2 separate regions of the Homo sapiens genome follow, and region 1 is linked to region 2. Evidence: fine-mapped expression QTL. Tissue or cell type: cerebellar hemisphere. Region 2 holds a variant in brackets; the other region holds the start of a gene. All regions are shown on one strand. Distances are between the middles of the regions.

What was found. PIP is the estimated chance that this variant, and not a neighbour inherited with it, causes the effect.
Region 1: it holds the start of SPTBN1, and the variant in region 2 is fine-mapped to the expression of SPTBN1 in cerebellar hemisphere (GTEx, PIP 0.98).

The regions. Positions count from the first base shown.
Region 1 is chr2:54,455,152-54,457,833 of GRCh38, forward strand. SPTBN1 (spectrin beta, non-erythrocytic 1) reads left to right here and starts at 1,176. Exons shown (of 36, transcript NM_003128.3): 1 at 1,176-1,367.
Region 2 is chr2:54,961,633-54,964,314 of GRCh38, forward strand. It overlaps EML6 (EMAP like 6), which reads left to right. Exons shown (of 42, transcript NM_001039753.4): 36 at 891-1,079; 37 at 2,354-2,526. Among named protein-coding and RNA genes, the nearest start is that of RTN4, 87 kb to the right of the region's middle. The variant G/A (reference allele first, on the strand shown) is at 1,127.

The DNA of each region.
Region 1 (2,682 bases), 510 kb before region 2:
CAGAACAAGGAGAAAGTCAGTTTCTTCAAACTGCTTTTCTAAAGAGCGTTTCCATTCGTGGTCCTGGTGATTCCACCATCTTTTCTTCACAACAGTGACGGTTCTGGAATTTCTACACAGCCTGAGGGGCTGACGGGGTAGACCAGGTGACTGGGAAGGGGCAGTGGCACATGACAAAAATTTGAGGAAACGTCCAGTTTCCGTTTCAGGGAATGCGCATAGGGGAAAACGCAAGTCCCCACGCCATCACGGGGCCCTCCACCGCGGCCGGACGACCCCTCTCTCGGGAGTGACTGGGGCAGGGCACCTGGCCTCAGGTTCGAGCGGAGCCTGCACTGAGAGGCAGGAGTTGGATGAACCACTTGTAGGGTCTGCTCCCAGCTACCCAAAGCGAAAGGGTGGGCGAAAAAGCATTTGCAAAAGAATACATTAACCTCACAAGGAACGACCCCCACCACCCATCCTCCAGCGCCCAAGGTTTCCCACGAAGAGGTCGCCGTCGCCCTTCTCCAAGTTGGGTAGAACCTATAAGGCATCACCAACTGCATCTCAAACCAACCAAGCAAGTGACGCTCCAAAACCTCCCTAAATACCCTCTCTCCCCAGCATTCCGAACGCAACATCAAGGGCGAAAAGAGGCTGCACAAATCACGTAGAAAATTAGACCGCCTCTTTCCATGGCGATAATCGAATTAGCCTCAAATTAAACGTGAAATTGGCCCTCTCCGGCTGTGGAGACAAAGCCCCTATTGTCCTGCTCGGGTAGCGGCAGCAGCAGTGCCCACCCCGCCCCGGCCAGCCTGGTCGGTCCCCGCCGCTGGGAGGATGAGGTCCGGGCTGGACCCGGGAAGAGCCTCAGCTGGAGAGGACGTGGACGCGCCCGAGGCTCGGCTCCCTGGGCGGCTGCGGGGCTCCGGGCAGGAGGAGAGGGCGGGCGAAGCAGAGGGAGCGGGCGGGAGTGGGGAGGGAGGAGTGCGGAGGGCGGAGGGCGTGCGGGAGGGATCCCGGGAGTGCGCTTGTGTGTGTGTGCGCGCGCGCCCGCCCCGCGCGCTCCTCTCCCCGCCCCTCGCCCCCTCCCTGCGAGCGCCCTCCTCTCCTCCTCCCCCCGCCCCCCGCGCTCCCGCCCAGCCCCCGGAATCAGTGCCGCTGTTGCCGTGCAGGCTGCGGATTCCTCCAGTCCCTCCCTCGGCCGCCTCTCCTCCCGGAGCGAGCGCGCAGCCCTGCGCAGCAGCGCCCACTGGTCCCGTCCTGTGAGCCCCGGCCCCAGCCGCGGACAGACCCGCGGAGTCGCCTCCCGGCCCACCCGCCCGGCCGCCGAGGAGCGGGAGGAGGACGGGACCCCGGCGCCCCCACCCCATCCCCGGGAGGTAGGTAGGGGGCCCGAGGCAGGGAGATGCCAACTCACTGGGGCTGCCTCCCGGGTGGGCTCCGCGGCGGCGGACGGGCGGGAGGAGGGGCGCGGGCCCAGGGCCGGAGGACGCCGCTGCCCGCCTGCCCTGCGCCCGGGGAGCCGCGTGGGGGCAGGGAGGCTGCAAAGCCCGGGCGGGGGCGGCGCGGGGAGCCCGGGTCGCGGGTGCTCATTGGTACTCGGATGATGCGGGACGAGGGGCGGCAGGCTCTGCGGTGAGGCGGCAGCAGACCCGCCGTGCGCACCGCTGCCGTCCGGCCCCAGCCCCGGCGCGGCGCGGCGATTCCTCCTCCCTGCCTCCGCCGGCGCCTCCCTGCAGCCGGGCGCGGCGGCCCCTGACGCGGAGGCCCCTGGCGCGGAGGTGGGTGCGGAGCGGACAGCGGACAGCCGGAGGGTCTATTTTCAGGTGCCCTCTCTGTGGCCCCGCGGGTGGGGAGCGGGGGCGGCGGTGACAGGGCCGGGCTCTGCGCGTAGCGGTGCAGGGGATGCGGCCAGGCGTGGTCCCGGCTGCGCCGCGCTGCAGCTGAGCCGGAGGCGGCGGCCCCGCGCCCCCACCTCCGCCCCATCCCTGCGCTTGCTACCCTCGTGCGCCCGCCCCCCCCCCGCCCTTTCTGCCGTCCCCACTCTCCCAGGGCTGGGCGTGAGCCGCCTCCGGGCGCCGAGCCGCCGCTGCGCCCGCCCTTCAGCTCCTGCCACCCTCTCTTCAACAGGTTTGTCTCAGCGCAGGGACCCTCCGGGCCTGCTTTGGGTAGGTGGGCTGGCTCGTCATCACCCCCCACACCACGCCCACGGCCCTCTTTTAGGGGGCGCCTTCTCTTTGTTTTTGTGATAGGAAAGGTGCCAACTGCTGCCATCAGATGAGGAGGGGGTGGGGATCAGAACGCAAACCTCTGTCCATTATTTTTCCAATCGAAAGCCAGGCCAGATAGTAAGTGAGGACAGGGTGCGTGTGGGGGTGCTTCGGCGGAGCAGAAAATTGAATTCGGTGGGGTTTATTTGGGCGGGGATGTGCTTTTTTGGCAAGATGGATGGCTCACGGTGCCCTCGCCGTGATGCAGCACAATGCAGCAGTATCGCAGCTTCCTTGGTTCTCGCTGGCGGGGCTTGGCACGGCCGCTCGGCGCCTGCGGCCCCCGCCCGGCCCCACCCAGGCCCGGGGCTGCCCTTGGCCGAGGCCTGGAGCTGCTGCTACCTTGTCCTGCAGCTTCTGCTGGATGTGGCGTCAGGAGGACCAGGTCAGCTAGGTGTGAGCAGGGGAGAGTCTTTTCTTTTGG
Region 2 (2,682 bases):
CCTGAGGTAGCTGATGGAGAAAGGGCAAAGTAAGAGGGTGGAGAAGAGCAATTAAGAATGGACAGTTTGTTGTTAAAAACAAAACACTGGCCAGGCATGGTGGCTCACACCTGTAATCCCAGCACTCTGGGAGGCCAAGAGGCAGGCACATCACTTGAGGTCAGGAGTTCGAGACCACCTGGCCAATATGGTAAAACCCCATCTCTACTAAAAATACAAAAATTAGCCAGATGTGGTGGCGGGCACCTGTAGTCCTAGCTACTGGGGAGGCTGAGGCAGGAGAATCGCTTGAACCCAGGAGGCAGAGGTTGCAGTGAGCCAAGATGTCACCACTGCACTCCAGCCTGGGTGACAGAGTGAGACCCTGCCTCAAAAAACAAACAAAAACAACACTTCTCACCCCTTCTTATTTTAATATTAACACTGCAAAGGCATTTTCTCAAGTTACTTGTTTTTTTTTTTTTTTTAAAGACAGGGTCTCACTGTGTCACCCAGGCTGGAGTGCAGTGGTACCATCATCATAGCTCACTGCAACCTCAAATTCCTGGGCTCAAGCAATCCCCAAGTTTTTCTAATAATAGTGGTGTTTTAAATTTTTTTAACTGTGGCCAAATAGACATAAAATTGACCATTTTGACCATTTGTAAATATACAATTCAGTGGCATTAGGTGCATTCACATGTTGTGCAGCCATCACCACCATCCACAGAACTTTTCTTGCAAAACTGTAACTGTACCCACTGAACACTGACTCCCCTGTCCACCACCCCCATTCACCGGCAGTCATCATTCTACTTTCTGTCTCCATGAATTTGTCTACTCTAGATACCTCATATGAGTGCAGTCATACAGTATTTGTCCTTTTTCTAATAGTGTTTCAATTACAACAGGGAAAAATCTTAGTGGGAACCAAAGACGGAGAAATAATTGAAGTTGGTGAAAAAAATGCTGCTTCTAACATCCTGATTGATGGTCACATGGAAGGGGAGATCTGGGGCCTGGCCACTCACCCTTCCAAGGACCTCTTCATCTCTGCCAGCAACGATGGCACAGCCCGGATCTGGGACCTGGCTGACAAGGTGAGGCCGACTCTGCCCAAACTCAGATGCCCACGAGTGGGCTGCGC[G/A]GCAGTGGGAGCTGAGCGAGGAGAGGCCCAGCCAGCGTCATGGCAGAGACGGGGATGGGGCCAGGTAGGAGATCGAGTTAGAAAACCTAACGATAAAAGAAGCCCCACTCACCACACCCCGTCTAAACAATATAATTGAGAAGGATTATTCTGTTGTCATGAAAGAACCCACAAAACTAAAAATATAGAGACAAATCATGTTTTCCCTGGATGAGAAGACTAAAAATGATTTAAAATGTGAAATGTTCTGAAATGGGCCTAATGTATTTCTGTCAAAATCCCAACAAGGTTTCTCTTAGAGCTTGGGAAGGCAATGTTAAAGTTCATCTGGAGTAAAACTGTGAAATAGCAAGGAGTGGCTGGGCGGAGCGGGGTGGGTGGGAGGGAACAAAGAGTTCTTGCCGATCCTCATGGCCTTATCCAGTGTTAAAACAAGTACTCAAGTTCAACTAATTAAAATACTTGGTTTCATTTTAAAATGGCTGGTAAGTGTTTGTTGTATTTTTAGTGTCAGAGTCACAGAATAGTCAGGTAAAAGCTTGAGTATGGTTGCTAGACTTTTAAGTTAGTTTCTGTAATTATTTATTAAACATTATTAGCAACAGCTGTCACTACTTGACTAACTACATAACACCAGCTGCTTCATGGACATGATCAGTGCCTACAATAACCTTGCAAAACCCTTATTAACATCGCTATTAGTAAAACTCTAAAAACTGAGATGTAATTTACCCAAACACACCCAGCTAGTAAGTGACAGGGCCAGGATTCAGAATTTGAACTAGCAGAGGCAGAAGCTCACACTCTTTCCCCTAAAGAAGAGGTTGGCAATCTACAGTTAAAGGCCAGATCGGGCCTGTGGCCTGTTTCTACAAGTCCAGCTGCCCTCATTTATTCAGGTACTGAGGCTGTCTTGTGCTACAGTGGCAAAGGTGAGTAGTTGCGACAGAGACTATGGCCCACAGAGTCTAAAGTGGGTGCTACCTAATCATTTACAGAAAAAGCTGGGCAGCCTGTGCCCTAAAACTTGTTGTCCCCCAAGCTGCTCTAATCAAGACATACAGCTCTGCTCAGTTATTCAGGGACATTTACTCTAAGAAGCAAGAGATTTGGTGGCCTGCAGTGGCTGCGAGGGCAGCCTGACTTCTCTGGCCTGGTGCAGAATGTCTCCTGGAGACCAGCTGAGGGGGCCAAGAGCTCAGGTGACTTTCCTTTGCATCAATGTAGAAGCTGTTAAACAAGGTGAGCTTGGGCCATGCGGCCAGGTGTGCAGCCTACAGCCCTGATGGGGAGATGGTGGCCATTGGCATGAAGAATGGAGAGTTTGTCATCTTGTTGGTGAACAGCCTGAAAGTTTGGGGGAAAAAACGAGACCGGAAATCTGCTATCCAAGATATCAGGTACCTAAGTGGGTGGTCTGGGCATGGAGGAGAAAGGCAAGCATTCTGCTTACCAGTGGTTCCCATTCCAGCCACGGCTGGAATAAAGAACTCAGTTGTGAGAGGGTCACTTTCAACAAGCCACCTATGAAAGAATACCTTCTCCCACTCTCACTC